3 separate regions of the Homo sapiens genome follow, and regions 1 and 3 are each linked to region 2. Evidence: fine-mapped expression QTL. A gene starts in region 2. Each other region holds a variant in brackets. All regions are shown on one strand. Distances are from middle to middle. Region 1 overlaps LOC107986837. Region 2 holds the start of GPR85 (G protein-coupled receptor 85). Region 3 overlaps LOC107986837.

The links.
Region 1: its variant is fine-mapped to the expression of GPR85 in monocytes after Pam3CSK4 (Quach 2016, PIP 0.95). The same link has a PIP of 0.9 or more in monocytes after LPS.
Region 3: its variant is fine-mapped to the expression of GPR85 in blood mononuclear cells (TOPMed, PIP above 0.99). The same link has a PIP of 0.9 or more in T cells and monocytes after R848.

The regions. Positions count from the first base shown.
Region 1 is chr7:113,106,777-113,117,105 of GRCh38, reverse strand. LOC107986837 reads right to left here. Exons shown (of 4, transcript XM_047421162.1): 2 at 9,307-9,351. It overlaps SMIM30 (small integral membrane protein 30), which reads left to right. Exons shown (of 3, transcript NM_001352688.2): 3 at 1-388. Among named protein-coding and RNA genes, the nearest start is that of SMIM30, 6.6 kb to the left of the region's middle. The variant G/A (reference allele first, on the strand shown) is at 5,445.
Region 2 is chr7:113,081,687-113,092,015 of GRCh38, reverse strand. GPR85 (G protein-coupled receptor 85) reads left to right here and starts at 5,189. Exons shown (of 3, transcript NM_001146267.2): 1 at 5,189-5,694; 2 at 5,907-6,024; 3 at 7,125-9,731. The coding sequence starts at 7,295. The coding sequence ends at 8,407. RefSeq lists a silencer at 5,444-5,503.
Region 3 is chr7:113,137,197-113,147,525 of GRCh38, reverse strand. LOC107986837 reads right to left here. Exons shown (of 4, transcript XM_047421162.1): 3 at 1,751-1,863; 4 at 1,085-1,486. The coding sequence ends at 1,400. Among named protein-coding and RNA genes, the nearest start is that of SMIM30, 24 kb to the right of the region's middle. The variant C/T (reference allele first, on the strand shown) is at 5,025.

The sequences.
Region 1 (10,329 bases), 25 kb before region 2:
CAAAGCATGTGAAATAGGAAGAAGGAAGTTCTTGCCCAGAATCTTAGGAAATCACCACTGTTCGGTTATAATCACTGCCTCCTGAATCGTTGAGGAGTCTTTTAAATTAGATTTTTGTTTTGTTGTCTCCCAAGTTAATATTATATTTAGATATCAGAGAGTCAGGCAAAAAGGAAAACTTTTATCTCTAGGGAAAAAACATTTAGAAAAATGTATTCAGTGTATCTAATACTGAAATGCGGAAAAAAATTTAATGTTAAAAAAAAACTATAGACATTGACATGGAAAAGAGATTTAATGTTTTGAAAAAAAACTTTATATTAACTGAGTAACATCCTCCTGATGAGAAGTACTATATTAAATATAAACCCATTATGTTATAAGTTAATGTTTCGTGTCCATTTCTTATTTGGGGCTGTTTGTATCCATTGTGGATTTTTATATGAGCTAAGTGGAGAAGGGCAGGATGCCTTGTGTTAACTGATTGCGGTAGCTTGAAGAGACATAATGAGAACTGGGCAGCATTAAGGTCAGAGAAGCCCCTGATAGAAAATCTAGAAATATAGAAGGAAAATGAAATGGCTTAAACTGATTTGTACGCCAGCCAAACGAAATATCCTCTCTGGCCTAGCTACTTAAAGTGTCTTCAAGCCAGCAACATCACCTGGGGCTTGTTAGAAATGCAGAATCTCAGGCCCCACCCAGACCAATTGGATCAGGAACAGCATTCGTTTCCAAAGCCCAAGTTAATTTGTATGCACATTACAAATTTAAGAAGACTGCCAACTTGCTTGAGCCCAAGAATCATTCCAGGCACTTGATAAGACTTTTTGATTCCCTGGTCTTTCTCCTGGTTGTATAGCTGTGAGATGGGGCCTGGAACTCCATGTCTAACAAGGGTCCTCAGTGATTCATTTGATTCTCAAGTTGTAGCCAGCATAAAGTAGTCTAAGGAAATCAAACTTTAGGGTCACACTGGAGGTAAGTAGTGAAATTTTTTCCTAAAATGCATTTTCCAATCTGTAGCTCTCCAGATGACATTGGGAGCCTCATTTTTTATCCAAAAACAGGCACTAGCAACCTAAAGTCCTGTTTATGGTGTAATTCTAGAGTGAGCTGACTTGGCTTGCATGAAAGTTTTGGTTAAAGTGTACAAGGAGTGAAGAAGCATCACAGAATAAAGACATGGAAACTGAATGCACTTGTTTTTGTCACAGCTGTTTCGATTTTTTGCTAGAGGAAGCACTAACAGTCTTTATTCAAATTAATTGGCAGTTAAACATTTCATAATTAATATAGCTTGATTGTACCTGCATTTTTTTGTGTGTTTTAAAGAAGGAAAAAGGAATGATGCAAGTTATAGAACAATTGTCATCTCTTATACTCCAGCCCATTGGGTGCTGATGTAGAAAGGCTGCTGCGGCTTCCTTGCATGTCAACTTTTCCATTGGGATGGGAGAAATCAAACCTAAAGTACATTTTAAATCACAGTGCAGTAGTCACTTAGTCACCTCCAGGTACTGTTTTTAAAATGTTCAAAATAAGACTATAGGCAAACATTCTTTGGTCAACGTGTATTTCCAAAAGTGCCTAGAAAGAATTAGAAAACTGCCATTTCCCTATTTTCCCCTTAAAAGTAGAGAATTGTCTTGAGGTGGCATGCAGGAATTTTGATGGATATGATGGGGGAACACCTCCTCTAAAAATAGCCTCATTTCTCATCTATTTAGGTTGGATTATATGGCTTTGCCTGAAAAGAACAGAACCCTTATGGTGGCTCTTAACATTTTTAGGCCACCAGTTCCTTTGAGAATCTGATGAAAGCTATCATCTTTTTCTTTAGGAAAATTCCCATGCATGCTGACATTTTTAGATTAGTTTCAGAGCTGAAGCCCATCCAGGATCTTTCCAATTCTAAAATTCCTTGATTTTCTATGAGGGATAACACCTGCTGTGGAGCAGTTACAGCAAGAATGGCATTAGCAAATATTCTGATGCCCAGCACAATTTGTAGATATCTAGTAAATGCCTTGTGCATGTTAGCTCACTGAGTTGAGTTAAAAATAGTTGAGATCAAGTGAAGAATTTAAGGTCCTTGCAAATACTTATATTTCTGTTCTCTGTAGTTTTAATGTAACCAGCTTAGTTCTCTAATGCTAAAAATCAGTACATTTCCTGCATCATTTCTCTCTTAACTGCTTTCATAACTCTTCTTTGTCATTAATTTTTAGAAGTTTGTGATATATCTCGGCATGGATATATCTTTGGGTTTATCCTGTTTGGGGTTCACTCGGTATCTGAGACTTACAGTTTTATTCTTTTTTCCCAAATTCAGGAAATTTTCAGCCATTCTTTCTTTTTACAAAAATTTCGCTCCACTTTCATTCTCCTTTTCTTCTAGGACTCCAGGGACCCAATATTAGATATTTTTGTTATAGTCTGATGCATACCTAAGGCTCTATTTATTTTTTCAGTCCTTTTTTTCTCTTATTCAGATTGGGTAATTTCTAGTATTGTATGCTTAAGTTCACCGTTTCTGCTGTTGTATTTTTTGTTCAAAACTTTCCATTTTGTTCTTTGTGTCTTGTGTTTCTTTGTGGAGACCTGTTTTTTCATTTGTCTCAAGCATGTTTGTGATTGTCACTGAAGCACCTTTTCATGGCTGCTTAAATCCTTAATAATCCTAACATCTCTGTCACCTCGGTGTTTAGCATCTGTTGATTGTCTTCTCATTCAAGTTGAGATCTTCCCAGTTCTTAGTATGATGATGATTTTTCTATTGACATTTGGACATTCTGGGTATTATATTTAAAAGGCTGTGGCTCTTATTTAAATTTTGTATTTTAACATTCCTCTGACACCACTCCTTCGTAGAAAGGGAGGATGCCTCCTCCTTCCTGCCAGATGCAGGTGGAAGCCTCATGACTGCTCCTCCTATACCCTCCACTGACACTGGTGATAGGTTGCCTTGTTACCACCAGGTGGGAGTGGAGTCCAGGCTACCCACATGGTCTTCATGGGTACCAGCGTAGAAGAGGGAGGTTCTTACTATCAACTGGTGAGGATGAAAGTGCCAGCTCCCCACCCAGCCTTCTGTGATACCTCAGTGGGGAGCCTGGAACATCTACAGCCTGGTGAAAGTGGAGGTCTTGGCACTCCACTCAACCTTTGCTGATGGTGGAAGTGGGGCTACAATTCTAAAAGTTTTCTGTTTCACTAAGCTACACCTTTCCTATACCTTTAAATACTAGAGAGAATAGTCTTGTTTGGTTTCCCACCCCCCCACCCTTTTTTTTTTTCGGTCTAAGCCCGTTGGCCTTTCTGTGCTACCAACTTCTCCAGTTCTCAATCTGAAACAGGAAGAAAAAAAAAAAAAACCAGCTAACTCACCACTTTGTTGTTCCTTTGCTCTTGAGGTACCCAGCTGTTGTGCCTTCTTTCTGCCTTTCAGAATCCTATGTTTGTTTTATACATAATGTCCAGGGTTTTTAGCTATATTTAGTGGGAGGAAAAGGAAAAAAGATGTCTACTCCATCTTTCTAGAAGTATAAGTCTTGGTGCATATTTAAAGAGGGAATTTTCTGAGCTACTCCAGAGATGGAGAGATAAAACACCAGGAAAGTGATTACTTCAAGGTATTTTACTCACAGACTTTTGTCCCGTCATCTCCCACATCCACCTTCCCCTCTTCACCCATCCAGCATATTGTTTATTCCTACCTTAACCCAACAGTCTCAACTAGGGAGTGAGACTAACCATCAAGAAATGCAGGGACGTAGATGAAGTTTGAGAAAATGGGCTGTATTCATATTTTGTCTCAGCATTGAGACTGCAAGTGGGAGCTTCTTGAAAAACTGATGTGATACCAATTGTGCCAACTAGCCAGGTCCAGGAAATCTCAGAAGCTACACCTCACATGCACCTGTGTCCTGCTGGGCTTTCTAGCTCTGTACCAGCTTATCAAATGCCATTTCCAACCTTGGATATAGGAATGGTAATGCAGCTATATAGCCTGCAGCACATAATGAATGGAGGAGAATTTTCTGCATATGACCCATCTCCCAGCCAGCGACTCTCATAACAGTCTCTTCAGTGGTACTATAATAGAGGCTAAGGGTCCAAGCTGTGGAATTTAACAGACGTCTCTCCAAGAATTAAAATGTCATAATGGGCAAGTCACTTATTTTCTCTTAAATTGCTATCTCCTGTCTGTTAATTGGATGTAATAATAGTATTTCTCCACTCCACCTCCTAGGTAGATGAGAAATATCTAAGGTAGTGTATGTGGAAGGGTTGGCTTGCTGTATGTTATTATTTTTAGGAGTATTTAGAGATATTTCCTAAAGAGAAGGGGGAAGAAACTTTACAAGCATCAATTTTGAATTTTTAAAGAGGATATCTTAAAAGTTATATGAACAAATCCTATATCAAACTTTAATTTTAATTTTGACATTTTCCCAAGTCCTAACAGGCCCTTGAAGATGATACTCAGTCTTTGTTTTTTCTTATTATAGTCCTTCCCAACACACACAATTCTAGCTTACAAACTGATAAAGCTCAAAGACACCTGTGAAGAAAAGAAAATTCGACTACCCTAAAATTTTTTTAAATCTTCTGGTTTGTACCTCATGCTTTCGAAGGGGAAAAAAAGGAAAGAAAATAATTGATTATTTTTTAATGATTCTTAATACGTTAACCATGGGTTCCTTCCTAGGTAGCATAACAGAAGGTTAGCAGCAACTGCCCAGGTCATTTAAGGAGAGGCAAGGAATTTGGTTTTTCCTGTTCAGGAAAATAGCAGATCTGGTCCATATTCCACCAAGAAAAATACTTACAAATCTCATCTCATTAGAAGTCATGAAATTATAAACTACATATAATGTGTTTAATGTTTGTTTCCTATGGTGGGGAGTAGAGAGGAAGCCCTTATCTTGATTTACTAATCCCAGACATGATTTTCACTCATAGGTGAAAATGGGGCCAAATCAATAAATAAATTTGCAGAATAGCATGTTTATTTTTTTTCTAATTTTCAGTAACTTCATTTTTCTAAATACTTTCTATAACTGACTAATATACATCTAACATCTAAATGCAAAATGCAGAAGACCAGAAAAATATATGATTGCTGCAAAAAAAAGATAATGTCGTTTAATTTCTCATTGATTTATAAGTATCAGAGCTAAAGTACTCTTCTCACATATTTCCACTGGATCCATTTTATGTGGGTGATTAAAATTTTGAAAATATTAGTTGGCACTTCATAATATGAAATGAAATTATGAAATTTTATATACAAGAGGGTTAATTATTTTTAAAGGGCTAATCATGTAGCACTTTGTTAAACACAGGGATTATAAATACTGTATTTCTCAATATTAATCAAGATAATTATGCTCTGTTTAAATGTGCGTAAATCACTTAACAAAAGAATTTAGAAGCAG[G/A]CATGAGCACCAAGAGCAGAAACTATACCATTTTCTATTTCAGATTATTTGTCACAACAACCCTTTCATTCTGCCACAAAAATTACCAGGGCATTTCAATACCAACATGAAACAGTTTTATAGCCCCTGAGATGGCATGTGCTTAACTTTAACTTGTTTACTCAACAGTTTTTGAGAAATAACCAGTACTCTTTAGAAATAAAAATATTTATCAACTATCAGGCAAATGATCTTGAGCCAATAATTTAACCTCCACAACTTTTTCATCTGTAAAATTTTTTGTCAGTAATTTCTAAGAGGTTTCCTATTGATAGAATTTTGTGGCTTCATAAGGATTTTCCTAATTTCAAAAATAATAAGGTATAATGTGTTAAAAATATTGTAATTATCCATTTTCAGTTGGCAGCAGTGAGGAGCTGATTTTTTCTTCGAACTCCTCAGTGACAGTAGTCTAGTCATTTGGTACATTTTGGATTTCAATTCGGTGAAGCAGGGAGGGGCAGCTCATTTTCTGTACTGAACAAGTGTGATTAGGGATTGTCTCAAGAAGGAAGAATGAAAACAAACCATGGCCCTGCCACTCTCACTCACAGCAAACAGCCCACCTGCTAATTGATGTTGACCTGGCTCTATTCAGGAATAAACAACCTTTTGGTTTCATAGGCTTGGTCTTTTCTGGCATCACCAGTGAGACTCAGGTCATAGATACCATCTTCCCAGTGACCAAGACAGACACTTGAGAGGATGGGTGGCACACATCACACTCCCCGTCTGATGTATCTTTTAAGTCCTGTGGAATCCACCTCCAAATTATCCCTACGATTCGCCCACTTCTCTCCATCCCTGTGGCTCCTACCCATGTAGACCATCATGAGGACGTGGATGACATCCGCAGCACCCCCCAGCTGGTCTTCCAGCCTCCTGTATTAGTCTGTTCTCACACTGCTGTAAAGAACTACCTCAGACTAGGTAATTCATGAAGAAAAGAGGTTTAATTGACAGTTCTGTAGGCTGTACCAGAAGCATGGATGGGAGGCCTCAGGAAACTTACAGTCAAGGCAGAAAATGAATGGGAAGCAAGCACGGCTTACCATGGTGGAGCAGGAGAGAGAAAAATAGTAAATGAGGAAGCGCTACACACTTTTAAATGACCAGATCTCATGAGAACTCACTATCATGAGAACAGCAAGAGGGAAATCCGCCCCTATGATCCAATCACCTCCCACCAAGTCCCTCCCCCAACTGGGGATTACAATTCAACATGAGATTTGACTGGGGACACAGAGCCAAACAATATCACCTCCCATCTTACCCCTCTGCAATCTTTTCTAAACACAACTGTGGTAAACTTCATAAAACAAATCTGATCCCATCTCAAAACTGTTTAAGGGATTTCCTGTTTTTATGAATTTTTTAACCTTAAGAAAGCACTGTGTGATCTGCCCATATTCCCTCCCCTTATTTCTCCAGTCTCATCTATGTCTGTGATCCCTAACCTACCTTGCATTAAACTTTTTTCTCTTTCTAGAAAGCACCAGGTGAGTTCTCTCTCTTCCTCTCTTCTTCCTTTTACCTTCTACTTCTTCCTTCTCCTTCCTCCTCTCACTGTCTGTTATTCTCCTCACTTCTCCCCCACTCTGTGTCTGCATGGTTCTTTCTCTGCCTGGGGTAGTTTTTCCAGTTCACCTAGCTTATTCCTGTCTCTTTAGGCTTGAACCACACTTTTTTAGGACAACTTCCCTGACCTGTCTGAGTCACATACCCCACTGTATGCTCACATAGCATTCTTCACCTCTCTTAACAGGTACATATCACGCTGTACTGGAATTTCTGTTACTTATCTTTATCTCTAAACACCCTCACCCCTGTCTCAGGATTCTAAGCTCTGTGAGTGCACACACTGAGTCTCTAATTCATTGTATTTCTGCTTCCAGCATAACTCCTGGCATGTAGAATTTGCTCACCCAATTCTTATAGACTAATTTGTGATATAAAGTTAATGTAGCCCAGGATCCACAGTGGATCATGACATCCCCCAGTGAGCCTGGCTGTGCCCACACTGTCATCAGTACAGCTCTCCCAACCTTTCAGATGTTGCATGGGACAGGCCTGAGATTCTTTGTGATATGTATCATTTTCTTGGACATTAAATTATATTTATAAAACATGATTTTAATAAATATTAAGATATAGGCTAGTTAGTTGAGTTAAATGATTATATATACTATTTATAAAAGCTTGCATTGTATGGACATATTTAATGATCTGTATAACATTTAGTTCAGAAATGATTCATCATTTTGAATGATGAACCATAGGATGATCTTCTCCTTTGCCCTCTCTCGTTCTCTTACTCATACTATACTCCAGCAACAACAGACTGCCTGCATTGGCAAAATCAAATGTCTTGCCATGCTTTCATGCTCATGGAACATTTACAAATGTTGTTTTCTTCATGAAACCTTTTCAAAAAGGAGTTAATGATATCCATCCTCCAGAGTTCACAGTGCATTGTTTTTACCTGTTTTCATTCAACCCTTTTTCACCACTAGCCCTACTGTCCCCTCCCTTCCCATTCACCCCCATATCTGTTGCCTATATCATAAATTTGTTAAAATCAAATTGTGTCTTTTTATCATTGCAAGTACTAACACAGTCAGCTAAAAGAGGTTTCAATAAATATTTGTGCATTAAATTTAGTTCCTAAAACATCCTGAAGAACAGATTAATAGAGTAGCATTGAATAAACAAGTCTATATGCTGACAGAGGTATAATATTAAAGCAATATTATTGCTTTTTAATAACACCGCAGGTTTGGAGCTTCCGTTTTACATACAGTGTTACCTCTGCCTTTCTGAAAGCTGTTGGCAACTCAGATTTACTCTAAGTGTTATCCATTGGAAAATATCCATTATGAAGTAATCACAAGACAGTTTTCAACATATTGCAGTCTTAGAGAATGCTATCACAGGTGATCTCAAAGCCCACATTTCATTCAGCTGAAGGCTGTATCAGAAAAAAAGGGGAAAAAAAGGAAAGAAAAGATACCCAGAGCCCAAACTACTTCTTCATTTTCAAAGATGGCTCTCAAATATAGCCTCAAATAGAATTCCACTTCTCACCCTCAGTCACGGCGAATGGATTATAGAATAGCCAATCCATGATTCCACTCTGCTGTTGTGTTGGGGCTTCCACCCAGGCCCTATGACTTTCTGAAATCCATTCAGTGTCTAGGTATGATTGAAGGTACAAGAAACATTAAAAGTCACTTTTTAGAAATCAACTGCTTCATTCAAATGTTTTGGCCTCTTAAAAAATAGTCTTAGAGAAAAGTGGACTTTATTGATGCTGCCATTATTTAAAGCATATTTGGAATTCATATTTGGAATATGGCATGCCCTTTCAAATACTTCCAATAAAAAGAAGTCTTCATGTTTGAGCACTTGGCTTTTGGAATGAGCCAGAAGCAATTCAGAGCTGAGCCCTGTATGTGAATGAGGTGAGTGAGAAATAGAGCAACCACTCGTGAGCTAATTATCCAATTGAAAGAGAGCTCTGAGCTTCATTTATACCTAGATTCTAAGGACTGGGGAGTTTAAATTACTTGGAGAGGTAAAATTACATCATTTGATAAAATAAATGGTGACTTCAAAGTAACAAAAAATTTTTTTCTGTAACTTATAAACCAAATTAAATGGTTATTACACTATCTAATGTATTGCTTTTTAACTAAAAAAATCATAACATTAGATAATTAGTATATATGGTAATGATATATAGATGACATTAGATAATGATATGGTATATATGGTAATGATATATAGATAACATTAGATAATATCAGAATGACCCATACCTTACCTGTCCTCAGCAAAACTGTTTTCACTCTTCCAAGCCATCTTCCACCTGCATAAATTTAATGAAACTGGATTGGAACATGCATACCATTTTGTCTTCTAGTTTTGTTTGTCTGTTTAACATGTAAGTGTTTCACGGATATTTTAACAATCAAGTAATATTCTACCCCTTATATTTACCATTACTTATTCCAAAACAATACCTTTAATAATGCTGGACATGCCAATGGTATTTAACATCTTGTCATTATTGATAACACTATAATAAGCTTATTATAATACTATAATAAGCAAAATAGATAATTTCTACCAAGTACCAAAAATATATTCATATCCTTTGAACCTGTGGTTTCAGCCTAGAAATTGACTTCTGTATATTAATTCTTACATTATAATTCATCCGTTGCAAATATATACATAAAAATATATCTAATGTGTCTATTGTCCTGATCTTCTAAAGAAGCAAGTTTTCCAACATGGAGGATAACTGAGGTGACTATATACTACTGTACCAGAAATGCTAGAGGTCTGGGTTTATAAAAGACACTCTGAATTCTAGGTGTGGAAAGAAAAGTTTCTAACCCAGGAGAGAAAGTAACAAATCTCCTGTTAGAGAAAAAGTTCAGAGTCACTGTGCACTTTTATAATAAGCAGTTCATAAGAGGGATCAAAAAAAGACTCAGCATATTAAGTGAAAGAAGTATTATATGGTCTTCAATATTCATTTTCAAGATTATTCTTATTGTTTTCATAATTAAAATTAAAACATTATTTGTCCAGTGATCTCTACATTTTTTATTAGTGGTCCATACTAATGATAGCTATCAAGAAATATTATTAATTAAACATTATTACAATAATAAGTACCAAACCACACAAAGAAGTGTTTCTTTCCTCGGTGGTGTTGCAAAGTGACAGAAGTTTATGGCTATGAAAGTCTGTGACATAATTAAAAGAGCACTAAACAAGGAGTCAAAACCATATGAATCCTAGTTCTGGCTATGCTGCAAACAGGCTGTAGGGCACC
Region 2 (10,329 bases):
CTTTGGAACCTGTTATGGGGCAGAGCAGAGAGAAAAGTCTAACAAATGAACCTTCTAGCATTTTGGAAAGAAACATGCCAGATTTTTAATCTTTTAAAAACTCATTAACATTCTGAAAAAATTTCACTGTTTGGGATGTTCACAATTATAGTTATTCCCAACTCCCAAGTCATGATTTGTCTAGCATATTATTTCACCATTCTGCTCCTCAAAGAGATGAATATAATGCCCTAAAAACTTTCAGTTACTTAGATGTCACTGTGAAAAAGGTCACTTTCTGCAGCAATTAAGATGTGAAAACCATTATCAACTAAGACATGAAAACCATTATCAAAAAAGGGAGATGTATAATCTCTCTTTCTATTGGTCACTTATTCCAGGTTGGTGATTTTTTTTTAAATAATCAATCAGAAAGTGTTTCTGTGCAAAAACCCCCAATGAGAGCCTTTCTTACCAAGATAGCTAAAGTTTTTTTTTTCCCAGTCTTTTTTTTTTTTTTAATTATACTTTACGTTTTAGGGTACATGTGCACAATGTGCAGGTTAGTTACATATGCATACATGTGCCATGCTGGTGTGCTGCACCCATTAACTCATCATTTAGCATTAGGTATATCTCCTAAAGCTATCCCTCCCCCCTCCCCCCACCCCACAACAGTCCCCAGAGTGTGATGTTCCCCTTCCTGTGTCCATGTGTTCTCATTGTTCAATTCCCACCTGTGAGTGAGAATATGTGGTGTTTGGTTTTTTGTTCTTGTGATAGTTTACTGAGAATGATGATTTCCAATTTCATTCATGTCCCTACAAAGGACATGAACTCATCATTTTTTATGGCTGCATAGTATTCCATGGTGTATATGTGCCACATTTTCTAAATCCAGTCTATCATTGTTGGACATTTGGGTTGGTTCCAAGTCTTTGCTATTGTGAATAGTGCCGCAATAAACATACATGTGCATGTGTCTTTATAGCAGCATGATTTATAGTCCTTTGGGTATATACCCAGTAATGGGATGGCTGGGTCAAATGGTATTTCTAGTTCTAGATCCCTGAGGAATCACCACACTGACTTGCACAATGGTTGAACTAGTTTACAGTCCCACCAACAGTGTAAAAGTGTTCCTGTTTCTCCACATCCTCTCCAGCACCTGTTGTTTCCTGACTTTTTAATGATTGCCATTCGAACTGGTGTGAGATGGTATCTCATTGTGGTTTTGATTTGCATTTCTCTGATGGCCAATGATGGTGAGCATTTTTTCATGTGTTTTTTGGCTACATAAATGTCTTCTTTTGAGAAGCGTCTGTTCATGCAAAAACTGGAAGCATTCCCTTTGAAAACTGGCACAAGACAGGGATGCCCTCTCTCACCACTCCTATTCAACATAGTGTTGGAAGTTCTGGCCAGGGCAATTAGGCAGGAGAAGGAAATAAAGGGTATTCAATTAGGAAAAGAGGAAGTCAAATTGTCCCTGTCTGCAGATGACATGATTGTATATCTAAAAAACCCCACTGTCACAGCCCAAAATCTCCTTAAGCTGATAAGCAACTTCAGCAAAGTCTCAGGATACAAAATCAATGTACAAAAATCACAAGCATTCTTATACATAAATAACAGACAAACAGAGAGCCAAATCATGAGTGAACTCCCATTCACAATTGCTTCAAAGAGAATAAAATACCTAGGAATCCAACTTACAAGGGATGTGAAGGACCTCTTCAAGGAGAAGTACAAACCACTGTTCAATGAAATAAAAGAGGATACAAAGAAATGGAAGAGCATTCCATGCTCATGGGTAGGAAGAATCAATATCATGAAAATGACCATACTGCCCAAGGTAATTTATAGATTCAATGCCATCCCCATCAAGCTACCAATGACTTTCTTCACAGAATTGGAAAAAACTACTTTAAAGTTCATATGGAACCAAAAAAGAGCCCGCATCGCCAAGTCAATCCTAAGCCGAAAGAACAAAGTTGGAGGCATCAAGCTACCTGACTTCAAACTATACTACAAGGCTACAGTAACCAAAACAGCATGGTACTGGTACCAAAACAGAGATATAGATCAATGGAACAGAACAGACGCCTCAGAAATAACGCCGCATATCTACAACTATCTGATCTTTGACAAACCTAAGAAAAACAAGCAATGGGAAAAGGATTCTCTATTTAATAAATGGTGCTGGGAAAACTGACCAGCCATATGTAGAAAGCTGAAACTGGATCCCTTCCTTACACCTTATACAAAAATTAATTCAAGATGGATTAAAGACTTAAACGTTAGACCGAAAACCATAAAAACCCTAGAAGAAAACCTAGGCAATACCATTCAGGACATAGGCATGGGCAAGGACTTCATGTCTAAAACACCAAAAGCAATGGCAACAAAAGCCAAAATTGACAAATGGGATCTAGTTAAACTAAAGAGCTTCTGCACAGCAAAAGACACTACCATCAGAGTGAACAGGCAACCTACAAAATGGGAGAAAATTTTCGCAACCTACTCATCTGACAAAGGGCTAATATCCAGAATCTACAATGAGCTCAAACAAATTTACAAGAAAAAAACAAACAACCCCATCAAAAAGATAGTTAAAGTTTTAAAGAAAACTTTAAAAAGGCTCTTTTTCATATACAACTTTAAATTTTGGTAACAGTTGAGAGCACCAAAGACACACGTTTTATGCTTTAAGCAGAAGACATGTCATTTGAAATGAATTACTAAAAATCTTTTATTTAGAATGTTTATTCTAGTCTATTATTCTCTGCAATTACCAAGTGTTATTTCCTGACACACACTTTCATGTAAACAATGCACAGAAAAAAACACTGTTTTTGCTGATCATGATACTATGCATCAGTTGGCAAAAATCTGAAATAGATTAATTTTGAAAGCAAGGTCATTGGTTTTTAAAATAAAATGGTATGTACTTTTTATAAGAACCAAATTAAGCAAATTATATCAGTTTTCCTAATACACTGATCAATATAGTACATGTAATATTCCAACAGTTTGTAAATCTTCAGAACCCTTCAAACCCAAGGATTAGAGCATATAGTTTTGTTGTATTTGCTTTGTTCTTTTACTCTTAACCTGAAAATCAAATTTTCTGGGTTTGGTGATGTAGGGGATAAAAAAAAAAGAAATTAGTTAAGACCAACTAAGCCTATGATCTAAACAATTTGAAGCAATAACTTTACATTTGAGAACTTGTAGATGATATGAAACTTTTGTCAGCTATTAAACATATTTTTTAAAGCCCTGCTGATGAAAGATGTAGCTTCCAATGTTTTCTCCAGTAGAGTTAATGAGCTAGATAGAAAATATCTCATTAATTTCTTGAGTCCCCTTGTGAGGCAAGAAAATGACATTCTTATCCAACAGCTGGAAAAGCTGAAGAATTAGTGGATGTAACTGTGCTCAACTGCAAAGGAAAAAAATAGCTTTACTATACCCTGAGATGTGGATATGAAAGAATATTGCATACACATATACCCTCTCCCTTATTTTTAAGGAATCAATATCTGCTTAAAGAATAAGACTAGTTAAAACCCTTGGATCTTGGCCCTATAACTTTTGGCAGAGTATATTACTGCTTCATGGCCTGGCAGTGCAGTGACTCTTTTAATTTACTTTAAAATAGCTTTTCCCTAATCTGTACAACCTAACATCTGACCAATCATGAATCTTCAGCAAACTTAAGCCTCTTATTCCATACATTTTTTAAAACTGTAAAAATTCAGGAAATAACTCTTTGCAAAGTACATTGAAGCATTTATTGGGAAGCAAAAAAGCACAAGTTGAAGTGATTTGTAGTTTCATAAAAACGAATTTGACATTTTACTTAGAAGTTGCAAACCACCACATGGTTTTGAGTTTTGAATTCATTTGCTTTGCAAAAAGTGGAATGTTTTATTTGAATGGAAATGCCCTCAAGTTACTTCCAGCATGGCTGTAGGATTGATTTTTCTAGGTTAAGGGAATGCCAAAGTTTAGTGCCTTGTGTATATTCTTTTCGAAAAAAACAAACTATTATCCATGTATTTAAATGGACGTAGGAAATTCAAGAACAAATCAGGGAAATTTAACATCATTTCAGTATTACCAACATAGGGCTTTGTGTAACGACTGTGACATCAAGATAAGGCTTTACCTCGGCTCATCCAATAGAAATACAGTATGTAAATTAACCCATATTATCTGTATGCTGATTGGCCTGAGTTCCCCTGAATGTCACAATCTCACCACCCAGCAATGAGGTATTTTACTGCTGTCTCAAGATCAGATTATTACTGTAGAGAAGATTTTTATTTTTTGTTTCATTAACAGATTATTATAAAGCAAAAAGCATGCAGAAAAAGAAGCAGACGTTTTACATTGGGAATTAATGAAAGCGTGTCTGCTAGTTTTGGGTAGGAGAACTGGGAAGTTGTTGCTTAAAATTTTATATCACCTCCACAAACAAAACTCTTCGGAAATGGTAAAATAAGAAAATGCATGATTCTAGAGGCATTCCTAAGCACCCACGTGTCAGGCTTTGTGGTGTCTGTGGTATCATCCGACCGTTTGGACTGGTGTAAGTTTTACGTATTTGTTATATTTCTAGTATTTTTCATCTGTAATAACAAAGGGGAAAAAAGGAAACTCGTACACATAACTGCTTTGACATCACCCATCATTGGTCAGCGGAACTTGTAAGAAGGGAAAAGGAATACTGTTGCTTGGTGGGGTGGAATGCCAGGAATAGCCATTTAAACATTTTATAAGCCTGATTCTTTAGTGACATCCTTTAAGGTAGACTGAATGTAAATCATATTGTAGTTGTCCTCTGAACTTAGCTTTCTCCCTACTTTTACGCATATTTGCGTGCATTGGAGAATAGAAGATGACTAACAAAGAGAGAGCTGCCCTAACGTGCCTTCCCTTCTTCCCCATTGAAAAGATTTTTAACTGTGGGAAAAAGATAAATAAATAAATAAATAACTTTTTTTCTTTTTTCCCATTCTTTTCTTGTCTTTTTCCAGCTAACCTGCAAATTTAAAGGTTAGCTGGAGACATCACTTAAAAATAAATATATAAAAGAAGCCTCCGGTGGTTTGGACCACCCTAAAAGAAAAGGGAAGAAAGTGTCTGGGGAAGGTTAGGGTTCCGGGAAGCTGAGGGAGGGGGCGGGCGTCACGGGCACTGTGACTTCCTCGTGCGCTGCCTTTGGGAAGAGGATGGGCCTGAGGTCCTGAAAGGGCCTTTCCAGCCCCCCACTACAAATGCGGGGAGGGAAAAGTTCAGAAGCAGCCACGAAGGGACAAAAGCTTAATGCTGCCAGTTGGATTGGACAGGGCAGTCAATAAACCCAGCCAGCTCTGGAGTCAGGTAGGGGTTCCTGCTGGTTCCACAGAGGCTGAAGCAGCCCCGCCGCCGCCCTCGCCACCGCAGCCGCCGCCGCCGCGGCCCCTGCGTTACTGGGGGAGACGGTGCCGCTGCGACAGGGGAGGACGCGGCTGGAGCTCAAGGAGGCTCCAGCGCGCAGGCGCCGCCGAGCCCTGCCTGGATGCTCAGTCAAGGCACTAAGGCAAAAAAAAAAAAAAAAAAAACAAAAAACAAAAAAAAAAAAAAAAAAAAGAAAAAGAAAAAAAGAAAAAAATCAGCAATTTATAGAAAGAAGCTATAGTCTGTCGGGATATCCAACACCAACAGGTAGGAGGATATACTCTTGGTTAAGTTTGGGGGATGTGGGGGAATGCACAGTGTTGATGAAACTGCAGGTTCACCGAGAAAGAGCCCTCCCTCAGGTTGTGTGTGTGTGTGTGTGTGTGTGTGTCTCTGTGTGTGTGTGTGTGTGTGTGTGTGTATGTGTTTTGTGACAATAAACTGCATAATGGAAGTACATTCAGACAATGCATCTTCAGTAGGGCTTACTGAGAGCTCCATTTCTGGAAAGCCTTACAAGACTGAGGAATATCAGACTGCGAATCACCGGGAACGGTTCCTTTGCAGCACAGAAGCAATCTCTCTCCCCATCTTCGCGTATGTAATGCATGTCTCTCTCCCTCTCCCCCTCCTCCACCCTCCCCCCATTATAAATCCAGGGGTGGCGGATTTCAGGTTTCGTAATGTTGCATGATGCGATCGGTATTTACCCGAGGATGTACCGGTGGGGAAATTAAAATCATCGAACGCAGTTTTGCCTGGGCTTCCACCAGCATATTCCGGGCCAGTGAGAAGTGGCAAAAGAAACACGCTTGGTGGGAATAACAGAGGAAGCCGATTTCCCTGGTGTGGTCCAGGCACCTGCGAGACAATGTGCATTTTGTTTTAAAAAGCAGCCACTTGTGATTTGCAACAAAGGTTATCAGTGTAAATGGGAAAGGCTTAATTGCCCAAGAAATACAGGTTCATGTTATATTCATTTGAATCCAGGCAGCCAAGGTTTACAAATGGAAGTGCATTATTCCTCTGGGTGTGTTTCCCTGTCCAATATTTACATTAACCATTTTAATAATCATGTGGGCTTAAAAGATTTGCCAGAAATGGGGGGTAGGGTGGAGAGGGAAAGACAAATGATTAAATCACATCAAATCTTGGGACAAGTAAGTTCCTATTAATTTTGAAGTTAATTTTGAAATTTTGCTTTAAGATGAATCAACAAATACTCTTATGCAGCATGAATAGTGGCACTTAAGATATATTTTGCACGGGTTCTTTGGACCCACATCAAACAGAGAAGCTGCCTGTGAAACACTGACAGATACTAATAGATCTCAAATAAATGTAGGTAGTGTCTCTGCCTCCTAATAGCAATCTTGTAGATTCCATTGCAATTCTAGTGGTTAATTCCTGGACTGGCATATTTTACAAGAATGGGACATTTTATTCCTTCTCTCCTAAAGTTACCCTATCAAATGTATATTGTCCAAAATAGGGACATTTTAAAATTCACTTAGCTTGAAAAACTAAACAAGCCAATTCTCTGAAATCTCGAGCAAAAATATTTAGTAAAGCAAATATTAGTATTCAAAATTAAAACTTTATTTGCTTCCCCATAAGTGAACAGCTTTGTTAGCACTGTCTGACATCATTGCTTGTTAACTTAAGAACTGATAGGTTTTTTTTTTTTTTTTTTTCAGATATTCTGATGGCAAAACAAGTGGAAGAAAAGAGGAAGCATGACTGCAGATCAGATCAGTTCTCTTTGTGGATTATATTTTCAGTAAAATGTATGGATCTATCTTTTCCTTGTTCTTATATCTAGATCATGAGACTTGACTGAGGCTGTATCCTTATCCTCCATCCATCTATGGCGAACTATAGCCATGCAGCTGACAACATTTTGCAAAATCTCTCGCCTCTAACAGCCTTTCTGAAACTGACTTCCTTGGGTTTCATAATAGGAGTCAGCGTGGTGGGCAACCTCCTGATCTCCATTTTGCTAGTGAAAGATAAGACCTTGCATAGAGCACCTTACTACTTCCTGTTGGATCTTTGCTGTTCAGATATCCTCAGATCTGCAATTTGTTTCCCATTTGTGTTCAACTCTGTCAAAAATGGTTCTACCTGGACTTATGGGACTCTGACTTGCAAAGTGATTGCCTTTCTGGGGGTTTTGTCCTGTTTCCACACTGCTTTCATGCTCTTCTGCATCAGTGTCACCAGATATTTAGCTATCGCCCATCACCGCTTCTATACAAAGAGGCTGACCTTTTGGACGTGTCTGGCTGTGATCTGTATGGTGTGGACTCTGTCTGTGGCCATGGCATTTCCCCCGGTTTTAGACGTGGGCACTTACTCATTCATTAGGGAGGAAGATCAATGCACCTTCCAACACCGCTCCTTCAGGGCTAATGATTCCTTAGGATTTATGCTGCTTCTTGCTCTCATCCTCCTAGCCACACAGCTTGTCTACCTCAAGCTGATATTTTTCGTCCACGATCGAAGAAAAATGAAGCCAGTCCAGTTTGTAGCAGCAGTCAGCCAGAACTGGACTTTTCATGGTCCTGGAGCCAGTGGCCAGGCAGCTGCCAATTGGCTAGCAGGATTTGGAAGGGGTCCCACACCACCCACCTTGCTGGGCATCAGGCAAAATGCAAACACCACAGGCAGAAGAAGGCTATTGGTCTTAGACGAGTTCAAAATGGAGAAAAGAATCAGCAGAATGTTCTATATAATGACTTTTCTGTTTCTAACCTTGTGGGGCCCCTACCTGGTGGCCTGTTATTGGAGAGTTTTTGCAAGAGGGCCTGTAGTACCAGGGGGATTTCTAACAGCTGCTGTCTGGATGAGTTTTGCCCAAGCAGGAATCAATCCTTTTGTCTGCATTTTCTCAAACAGGGAGCTGAGGCGCTGTTTCAGCACAACCCTTCTTTACTGCAGAAAATCCAGGTTACCAAGGGAACCTTACTGTGTTATATGAGGGAGCATCTGTAAATCTTTAGCCTTGTGAAAACTAACCTTCTCTGCTGAGCAATTGTGGCCCATAGCCATATTTTGAGAAGAAATTCAAGAATGGAATCAGCAGTTTTAAGGATTTGGGCAACATTCTGCAGTCTTTGCAATAGTTCACCTATAATCCTATTTTAAATCTCAGAGTGATCCTGCTGACTGCCAGCAAAGGTTTGTAATTAAGAAGGGACTGAACCACTGCCCTAAGTTTCTTTATGTGGTCAAAAACTAGATAATGAAAGTAGCAGGTGCTAAGTATCAGTGCTAAATGCTCTGTATGTCACTACATATGAAAAAACATCAAAAAACAATTAGCATTGGACATCTTAATAAATTAAGTTGACATGAGGTAAATGTGTTGATAAAAACTAATTTTAGAAGTTTGAAGACTTTAAAACATTTCATACTACTATTGTTTTGCAAAGACTAAAATATTTGGGGACTTAAAGTACTGTAATCCACTAAAGACGTGCCAATGAATTATTGGAATATCACACTTTAAAAACCGCCTTGTAAGTTCTGGGGAGCATTCCAAAGCAGTATATTGGTTCCAATTAGAGTTTACTTTTTTTGTATTAATACATTGCTATTTCTAAATACCACTTTCCTCATCTACTAGTAAGATTGCTAGCATTGAACTGTATTATGTGGTTTTTGTTGATTTGGTATAAAGTTTTTCCAATTCATTTATATTTTACAAATGCTAGATATTGGTCTGGGAGGCAACATTAATGGTACCAGCCTGTCACAACTGAGCAGTTCTAATAATGCAGAATAAATACATGTTGCCTTAAAGGGTTATCTAGTATCCTTCATCTTATTTAGCACTGGAGCAAATAGCCAAGGGAAATCAAATCAGTAACTGGTCATGGTCATGCATCTAAAAGTGCATGGAAGATCATTTATTACTTTTTCCTTTTTTCTCACATGGTTTGAAACTTAAAGTGCACATCACTGAAATAATGAGATTTTCTTCTACGGTGTGCTACCCTTTCTAAACTGTTCTAAGAAGCAGGCAGTTGATGTATGTTTATATTTTAAGTCAGCTGTCAAGGGGAGACCACAGCCTTAGTATGACATCCTGCACAATTTGTGAAGCATTTATTCTACTGAAGGCACAGTCTTGTTTATACTTTCTGCACATTCAGTGTATTGGTAATTTAAATTATTTCAGTTTTAACTTGTGAAAGCTTATATTATGATTTCTGGTATTTTAGAAATACATTAGAGTCTGTGAGTCTCATTCTTTAAGATACAGATGTGTGAACTTCAATATAAAGTTGCATTTGCCAAAATTTACCCGTGTAGCCTGTTAATTTTCTTGAAATAAGTTTTACATTTTTGGCACATAACAACTTTTTTTTTAATTTGGGAGGCAAGCACAAACTAGGAAGACTAGCTTTATTATGGTTTTGCTTTTTGATTCTTGTAGCTACTACATTCCAGACTGGAAATGTATGAATGATAATCAACATAATGCTGATAAACTGACATAATATTATCTGTAAAAGCATTATTTGGTAGTTTATTATAATCATCCCTCTATTATTCTTAAATGCCAGTAGTATTTAGAGATGTGTACCTGCTTAGTTAATTGGCTCAGAATTTTAATATAAACATCACACTTTAATTTGGAGCATAGTACCATAGAAATTTGGGGTTCTAAATATACAACTTGTAAGAAGAATGGTTTACACTAACATTATGACAAAACTAGAAAAAGTTATTATTTTTGTTTGCTTTCTGTTGTTTTGTTTATTGGTTGGTTTTTGTGAAGTTTATTTTTTTTTGGTATTTGATAATTAAGATTAGGAATCTAATAACACAGAATTCCATATTGCTATAGTACTTCTGTAAAGAGAATATCAATATAAATAAGGAAAATAAATCAAT
Region 3 (10,329 bases), 56 kb before region 2:
ATGAAGCCTTTAAAGAGGTAATTAAGGATAAATAAGGTCATCAGGTAGGGCCCTAATCCAAGAGGACTGGTTTCCTTAAAAGAAAAGGAAGGGACACAGGGATGCTGGCACACAGAGAAAAGGCTGTGTGAGGACATAGCAAGAAGGCAGCCATCTGCAGACCAAGGAGAGAAGCCTCACTAGAAACCAAACCTGCAGGTACCTTGAACTTGGATGACATCCAGCCTCCAGAACTGTGAGAAAATAAATTTTTCTTGATTGAGCCACCCAGTCACAATATTTTGTTATGGCAGTCCTGGTAAACTAATATAAGAAGTAAAAATGAAGTCACTGATGCCAATAATCCTATTCATCTGGGACGCTGAGCCTGTCCTGTGAAATTTCAAGGACCAGTCAGAGGATTGGTCCAATTTTCATCCACTGCCAATTGGCAAGAATGTGCTGAAGGGCATGGCACATGATCTCACTCTCCAATGAGACTCAAAGTCATTCCAAACAGTCATTCTTTCTATTAAGACAACTCTTCTTCGTAGAGTATTGAACTCTACCTGAGTGGGCAATTCACTAGAAGGCAATTCACCCAGCAGCAGGACACAGCAGATCTTTAGGAAGAAGGTAGCCCTGGTGGATCCAGATAGTCCTCTCCTTAAAAAGAGTTCTGAAATACTGCATTTCCTCAGTAATACAAGTCACAGATGCATTTGGTCTTTGACAGCAGCCCATTTCATCCCTCTCCTAGTCTATCTTCTCCTTACTGGGCTTCCCCATGCTTCCTCCAACTCTATAGGCTTTGCACGTAGACACACTCCTGGAATGTAAACTGAGGAAATGTTCTTATCTGTCTCACTGACCTCTTCCAGCTCTGGATAAATGAGTTATTTTTTAATACCAGACTTAGCAAATCACAACTCTGATTCAGGATGCAAAAAAAAAATGAATTCTGTCATTTAAAAACCAGTAAGTTATCAAAAGTCCCATATATTCTATCACTGTATTCATAAAAAAATATGACAACTTTGCATGTGTTTATACGTTACACAAGTCAGAAATATGATTTTAATTATGCCACAAAACAAAACAACACTGTTGATACAAGGTCTTTAATAAGGTTGGTTACATTGAACAACAAGAAACAAATGCTCTAACAGATTATTTTTAAACCATGTGGTATAATGGCAATGAGTTTATTATCATTTCTAATGACAAAATTAAATATGCAATTATGATTCCCATCCCTCAGTTAGATAGAAAAGGAGTCCCAATCTAAATTCTATGTGATGCCCAGAAATAAAGAATCTGAACAACCGCAGTTATCATGATGACTCTTTGGAGTTAGCTCCCATCTGTCTCTGACGAAGTCTCCAGTTAACCCAGAAGGCGTTATTGCCCTGAGACAGGCTCAGGAAACTCCTAAACCAAAGAAGCTACAGTTTTTGATTGAACAGAAACTCTGAGAATGGATTACCTGGGGAAGTGCCAAGCTGCCCTGAAAAAATACAAAATTTATCATCAAGCTATTGTTGGAACATCTCTACCCTTTGGGAAATCATCCTAAAATTGCTTCCAATCCCAGTGGCTGCTGTCTATCTCAGGCCTTCTACTTCCTAATTGCATTCCCATTTTGATCCCTTATGACTAGATCATTGAGTATCCCTATCTCCATCCTATTTCTTAGCCCTTTTCTGAACTTTCTGTTCCCAAGAGGTTGTCCCATGTGTCTTCTTGGTTCAGGTATTGTCTGACCACTCACAGTGAATTGACTTCTCTCCACAGTCTGCTGCTGCCATCTTTCCACAGCCTCCTCGCCACAGTGTCTTAGGAAGCAGTCATTCATCTTCATGGACCATCCCCACCTCATCTCTTCTGTGTAGCAGCAGAAACAAAAAGAAAGAGGATGTTTTGCTATGATTGAGTTTAGTTTGGTTCTTTGGGGTTCTATCCTTGGCCCTCTGCTCAATGAAGGAGTAGTTTCAGATATTTTCCCCTCATCCCAGACAGAACAACAGTTTCTGATTCACTTCATCCTCCCACTGTCTCCGCCACAACCACACAATACCTTTCAACAGTGCCTTCTGCCAAAAAGCTTGGCCACTTCTGCCCTGAGTCCTACAGGTAAAATTAGCATAAGATTCATGTTTTCTTTTGAACTTTGCTTGACTTATTTTTCTAAAGGTTTTCTAAACTCTCTTGCACTTAAACCCATGTTGTAATGCTGTTAAGTCATTAAAGCAAAGTAAAACAAAGAAAACAGCTTCAGGGTACTGCTTTTTAAAATCTTAAAGGATGAAGTCAAAACAAGAATTTCCAGAGTGGCTCTTTGGTGAGGAGGATCTGATGTCTCAAAACATATATACAGTCACTCCCTACCTCACAGAGAGGCATCCCATAATAGCTCTTCCTTGCTGTGTCTTTCCCAGCAGTTGCCTCCCCTGCAATGCTGCCTGCTGCCTTGCTTCTGTTTGACCTTTGGGGAGGTCTCTGCCCTTTTTCTCAGATGCACCTACTTCAGGTTGCCATCTCACAATGACTGAGGTATTTGCTGTCACTCATTCACCCCATGCATCCAGGAAAGTGATTACAATGCAGTTCTCTCTTTGAATAAATAATGTAGATCTGCTGATTTCTGAATTTACTCTGTGTGGAGGTCAGTTCCAGAAACACTCGTTGCTCTCTCTCCAAAGCTTCTTTTCTCAGATATGTGTAAATGATTACTGTTTATTATCTCTCTTAGTGAAGGAAAGAAAGAAAATAATGAAGAAACACATGTATTGATCACAGATCTGAAGCCAAGCAGTGTGTTACGTGTTTGCACATGCATTTTTATTTTTGCAACAGCTGAGTCTCTGATTTGAACACAGTATGATTCCAAAATCCAGATTCTTCCCAATACATCCCACTGCCATGCGCCACACAGAGCAGATGTCCTTTTAAGAAATATGGGAAGAATAAATATGGGATGAGTGGCTGTTGTGCTAAAAAGAATTGTCTGTGACTTCTGTTCCAGTCTCTCACTGACTTTGCCTCACCTAGTCTCTTGTTCATTTGTTTTTTACCTAAATAGTGCAACCAGAGGGAGCTTCCAGGGACAATGTCTGAAATTTCAGCCTTGTACCCCTCTACCTTTTCAAATAAAAGATTTGTAGTATGCAAGACTTTTCATTTAAAGTAAAATTGCTACATAGATGCCTATGCATAGTTGTGATAACAAATAGGAACACCTAGTAGATGCATTAACACAATATGTATTTGGTTTACTAGTGAAAGCATGAACCTCAGTAACTGGGCATTCAGTGGCTTCATTTTTGTAAGAGAGAAGAGAATGAGGAGAAGGAGGAAGTGAAAACTCAAGGCACTAACAAGGGATGGCCATCTTTAGGAGGGCAGACAAGGAAGCACAACCCAGTTAGTAAATCAAGGGTGGAGTTAGCACACTCAAGGAAGGAGGAGGTAGAAAGAGAAACAAAAGGGTACAAACCCAATCTGGGCCTAAGGGACAACCCCACCTAAACTGATTAGGGGAGAAGAGCTAGAAGGAACGATGAGAAACCAGCAAAAAGGAAGAGAAATTTTCCACAATGGCATCTGAGCTTACCTCTATTACAGAATACATACCATTTTCTGTTGAAAATCTGTTTACTTGCCTGCACCCTCCTTTAGATCATCAGTTTTTAGAGGACAAGGACCTTGTTTATTTAATTTGTGCAGGACCAGAGCCTTGTGCACTGTCTGGCATGTAGCAGAGGCTTGATTCATGTTTGATGGATGAATGAATCAAATCATTTTCCTTTCTTTTCTATTTCCTATGCATAACATCTTGGCTATGAGGAACTGGATGTACTTCATATATGATGGCACTTCAGCTGTCTGAACTGTCATCATATATGAAGTACACTCAGTTTTGAGGAATACCCAGGGTTCTTAGAGGTGCCAGGGGTCCTTGAAATATATAAACTGTGTCATTTACAGAAATGCAGCATACACATCCAACTCAGAACTGTAGCAAACACATCTAACGTCTAACAAATATTGGGTTTTTTAAAGTTTTTTTCAAGTTATTATTTGTAATAGGCATTTTATTTATTTTCAGGGGTCTTTATTTATACTTCTTTACATAATTTATTTTTATATAAATCATTTACATCAGACTCTATTCAGGCTTCTATTACATTATACTTCGATATATGTAAGACAGGTTTAGATGAAATATAGCTAATGGTTCCAAAATAGTTCCTGTAGACATGCTATATATTTTAAACTTAATTTAATTTCCTTCTTACGTACCAGAGAAAAAAAAAGTATGAGTTTTTTTTCCAAGCATCTCTCTTTCCTCATTATCAAAGTATTCATACTGAATTATTTTTAAAAGGCAGCATTTAGTATTCAATCAAATAATGAGAATGTGTTCCTTCCCAGTGGTTTAATAATAATTCTTGCATCACCAACCCTGAATATTCATGTTATGGAAATGTGCCCTACTTCTATAGATTTCATCACTGTCAGCTGGTGCCACAGCAGAACACAGGGACAGTCAGTCTTAATACAGTCAAGATTTCAGCAATTACCAAAGTGTCTTCTCTGACTTACCATCAATAATTCAACTTTTGAGGAATATAATGCTGAGACACAGGAGGCTGACCAACAAATATTCTGCTATTCTTTGGAAAACAGCCACCTAGCTGCATAAAATTGTGATGTCATTTGACTGAAGTCCTGCTTCGGCTCTATCTGCATGACATAAAGACAACTGATCTATTCAGGGAAGAAGTAAATCCATCAAGCCAGTTTTGTTTTGTTTTTTCGTCTTTGGTAAATCAAGTTATAGAATATATTTTTTTCTCTTCATTTTGCTGTTAGAACATAGCTTGTCAGTGGTCTGATATTCATCATCCTCATTTCTCAAAACATGTGTTAATCATGCTTTAACCTCGATTTTCTGTTAGTGGTGTGACCTTGGTCTAGTCAGTCCCTCTAAGAGTCAGTTTCCTCATCTGCAAAATGAGGAAGTGGGATTAGGTGGGGGTCAA[C/T]GAACTTTTTCTGCTCAAGGAGAGATAATAAGTATTTTAGGCTTTGCATGACATATAATCTCTGTTCCAACTACTCAATTCTGCCACTTTAATGTAAAAGCACCCACAGATAATACGTAAATGAATGAGCATTTCTGTGTTCTAATAAAATATTATTTTACAAAAACAGGCAGGTGGCAAGACAGATTTGGCTGCATGCAGTAGCTTGCTGACCTCACTCAAGTCTTTTTCAAGTCTGTGATTCTATATAATAGATACATAAAAAGCACCTAAAGATCAAAAGGCAGAATAAACCTACCAAGTCCCTCAATCATCTAAAATGTAAGGGGCATAGAAATTTCCAATTACAGAATAATTCCTCTAAAAAAGTCAACTAGGCCTAAGTGAACCCAGCTGGTTAACAGATTAACAAAGTTCATTCAACTCTTGCCAGTCAGTGTCTATGTTATTAGTGGCCCTAGCATACACAGATGCCATAAAATTAGGTCCAAGTCTCCAAGCTGTTTGTGTATGAGAAGAGAATATGCACATCAGCTTGCAAGAGTAATAGGATTTCACTCCAGGTTTTTGTTGCCTTGGCATTGAAGAAACTAATCTGCATTAAAAACAACATATTAGGTCACATTGTAGTTTCAAGCTTGCATCTCTGGGTAAAGCACCTATTTTATTTAGTAGCTCAGATGGTAAAAACCCTGAAAGGAAAGGTCATGTATTAATCCTTTTAGATGGTCTGTGAATGTCTACAGTTTCATTCTATTCTGCTACTATGAACTGCATGCACCCAAACACACATGCCATAGTCAGAGAATGCTAACCTGTGGAGACTGAGTAGACAACTGGTGCCGAAAGATGATTCTGTTATATTCAGAACAAGTTTAGACTATTTATGGGGTATAACAATTGCCCAAGAAACATATCCACAGTGACAAAGAATACCAGGATTAAAAAAAAACAAAATGAATGACAGTCTGTTTGGTTTATAGCAGGGCTTCTCAACCTCAGAACCATTGGCATTTGGGCTGGATAATTTTTTGATGTGGAGGACTTCTATGCACTGTAGAATATTTAGCAGCGTCATCGGCCTCTACATACCTAAGTTGTCGGGGTCCCCAACCATTTTGGCACCAAGGATCAGTTTTGTGGAAGACAATTTTTCCAAGGACAGGGGTGGGGGGTGGTTTCAGAATGAAACTGTTTCATCTCAGATGAGACATTAGTTAGATTCTCATAAGGAGCATGCAACCTAGATCCCTCACATGCACAGTTCACAATAGGGTACATAATCAGTCGCTGCTGATCTGCAGGAGGTGGAGTTCAGGCAGTAGTGCTCACTCTCCAGTCGCTTACCTCCTGCTGTATGGCCCAGTTCCTAACAGGCCATAGACCAGTACCAGTCCACGGCCTGGGAGTTGGGGACCCTTGCACTAGATGAAGTAACAGTAACTCCCATTCCCCCTTCCCCTGTCATGACAAACGAAAATGTCTCCAGGCATTGCCAGATGTCCTGGGTTGAGGGAAGGGGAGGGCAAAATTACAGCTAGTTGACAACGTCTAAAGTATAGAAAGTTTAGATATTTAATTGGTCACAAATCATCATCCATACCTCAGAAGTCAAATACTACTCCACACCAAACCTGATATTTACAAATGTGTTATAATGACTTTCCAGGTCCCTTCCAACTAATTCCAACTAATCACAAAACAACAATAAGAAGAAAAGTGGAGCGGGTATTGTCTGGGGAAGAATATTGCTGTCTAAGTCCTTTGTCCTAAACTGTTTCTAACTCTTGTTTAATAGCAATGTTCTGATTTCTAAATTATACACATAGGAGAACCAGACAAGACTCACTATGTCCAACTTCACTCCTAAATTATTGTTCATTATTGCTTGCCTCAGTTACTAGTGAAAAGATCACAGAGCCTTAGGCCATAGCTCAATGTCCTAAAACTCAGTCAGCCTATGTGAACTTCAGCTGTTGAGTTCCTGATCTCAAACTGTTGTTCCAGGACATTGGTCTCTTCATCTACCTTACCTAAACCTCTGCCTGCCTTTCCCAGTTTTCTGAGGGAGTAATGTCTGTACTCCAGACCTACTGCTGGGTCCCTACTACCTGCTATACACTTTCCAGTAAACCATATTCTACTCATTGAGACTTCATTGGGTCATTTCCTTCCTGCTGATATTTTTCCCCATCTGCTCACATATCTGTGTTCCAATTATCCCTGTTCTGTGGGGGTCTCATTGTTGGGTTCTGGGCATAAAATCAATTGCCTACTTATTCATTTTAAAGAAATAGTAATCATAGAAGAAAAAGGAGAGAAGGAACTGTGTGGTTACTTCAAAGGCATCCCATCTTGAAAAGCTTCCTAGTATAACCTGACAACCAGAACTCTATTATTAAAAGAAAAATCATCACAGGATATGCTCTTATGCTATGTTACTATCATATAAGGCTTTTCAACATTCTGAGTCATGCAGAAATTTCTACTGTTCTCTGATATTTTAGACAGAGAGAGCAAAACCAGAAAGATGTCAATCAGGTGATATGATCCATGGAATTGTTCTTCTATGCAAGTTAAAAAAAAAAGTAGACACAATAACAAGTTGAAACTGAACATGAGATTAATTTTAAATCTTACACAAAATCATGTATAACTTCAGCTGGGGAAAATAATGTTAAATCATGTTGAATTACAAATATAGGTATGTATATTCTTATACTCTTCTTTCAGTATCCCAAGGAAAGTTTGTCTATGCATAAAGGTGGCCAGGAAACGTTTATTTAAACACAAAGATAGTTTTTATTTCATCTCTGAGGTCAGGTGGAGAAGAAATTCTGTTTGTTTGACTTATGCTGCATATAATGAGCACCAGTGAAAAATACCTGAATTATAAACACACCAAACTGTGCAGTCTTAACCATGAGACATGCAGGAACTTCAAACACTGGCAGAGAGAAGAGCATGGGCCAGCATCCTGGGTGGGATTCAGGGAATTAGGGTTGGGGCAGACACAGAGGTAGCTCAACCAGCTGAAAGTACAGAGCAGGAGAAGTTAGCTGCTGTACAAATCCCAATGGGAAAGAGGCCTTCCCCAGTGCTCAGAGTGGGGTTACTTCCATAAAGACCTATAGAGTAGAGCTCAGCAGCAGGCAGAAACCACAGTAATGTTATGGTTCAAGGAGGGTCCATCTGATTGGAAGCACATCTCAAGCCAACAACTCAAAGGGCATAGATAGTGAAAGGGACAAGAAGTGTGGGGTTGAGAAGTTCTGTTGAATAGAATGGCTGTCAGGCCTCTGTTGAACATACTGGGTTTCAGTTCAAGGCTTGAGTCCCAGATGGCAACGTAAGTACAAATCAGGAAGAAGGCCAGATATCCAAGAAGTCAGTTTCCAGAATCCATTCACTGGAGAGGATAAGATTCTAATATTCCTAAGCCTTGCTCATGCATTCATGCAATCTTTTGTTCAACAAATGCATACTAAACACCTACCAAGCACTGCTAGACACTGTTCTTGGCTCTGCAGAGTCGATGGGGAAAAATAAACATAGCCCTGGTTCTTATAAAGAGCTTTGCTGGAATTGCTTTGAGGCTTAATTAGCACTGAATATATAGATTACAAAACATCACATCAGGGCTAATAGACACTACCAGCGCTAGCAAGATCAAATGGCCTGTGCCCTTGAAAAATTCTGCTCCATCCCAAAGGTAGCCAGTTGGGTAGCAAGAAAAGAATATAGCGGATGTGCATTCTGCCCACACCCACTATGAGGAACTTAGTTCTACCACCTTAAAAGCATTGCTAAATAATAAATGGAGGCCATGATGATGATGATGAGCAGTAGTAATAGTTATTTAATTGTTTTGGGATCCAGCCAAGAGCCAGAAATCATACAGGTTAAACAGAAAGAAATTAATATAAAGAATTGTTAATTTTGGCCGGGTGCAGTGGCTCACGCCTGTAATCCCAACACTTTCGGAGGCCGAGGCGGGCAGATCACGAGGTCAGGAGACGGAGACCATCCTGGACAACATGGTGAAACCCCGCCTCTACTAAAAATACAAAAAATTAGCTGGGCGTGATGGCATGTGCTTGTAATCCCAGTTCTTCGGGAGGCTGAAGCAGGAGAATCCCTTGAACCCACGAGGTGGAGCTTGCAGTAAGCCAAGATCGTGCCACTGCACTCCAGCCTGGCGACAGAGTGAGAATCTGTCTCAAAATAAAATAAAATAAAATAAAATAAAATAAAATAAAATAAAGAATTGTTAATTTTATAAAAGTTGTTAATTAAGTACTGAAATGGCAAAAAGAGAACTCTAAGGTATCATAGAGGTAGCAACCATTCCTAGAATTCGAGGAACAAAATGAAGATATTAGAATTATTAACAGTTAGAAGCCTGGAGCACAGGCCTCACAGACTCCTGAGGAGAATCTGATGGTGCTGAGTCCCTGAGCTTAGCGGGAGGAGGCATCCCATGGTTCTGGGTCCCAGATCTCTGAAGAAGGGGAGCCAGCGACTGATGCTGACTCTGTGAGTGTCAGGGAAACCACAAACTGGACTCCTCTGCTGCTATTGGAACAAACTGCTGCTGCAAGACTGAAGAGGCATTGCTGGGTGATGCTCATGGGAAAAGAAAGCCAGCAGAAAGCAAATAGGAAGAAAAACAAAAACAACAGCAAAAAAGAAAGAACATGTTCCATCTACCTCCTCCTGCTTACAATTTCCTGTAGTATCCCCAACTGACAGGGTTTAACCAATCAAAAAAGCAGAAACATGGTTTGCAGATGCCCACAGCCCATGTATCAAAAAGCAAAATGTAGACAGTTGGGTTTGAAGCTGAGAGATGTTAGTTTAATAACCAACCCAGTAATCAAAGGCAAATTCTTTACCTTCCTGAGACATAGTTTATAAAATAAGGACAATAATGCCTAACATAAAAAGTCATTTTAAGAATTAGACAAAATGTGCATAAAGCACTTCACATAGTGCTTGACAAATAAAATGCATTATTTCACAACAGTTAATCATTTCCACTCCTGCCTTATCATTCCAAGTACACCTGCTATCCCAGTACCTTTCTTAAACAACCACTTCGTAGAACTCCACATGTGGCCTAATCTATTGCCAGGATGTATCTCAGTAGGAAAAAGCTATTTGTAAGGCCTTAGCCAACACGGAGTTCTTCCAGGTTGGAGATGATATATATATCTTGTATTTTAACTTCCTTCCCTTCCTGTAATCCTGAAAATATGGCCAAAAATTTTCACCCAGATTCTCCTTTGCCCTTGCCACTATCAAC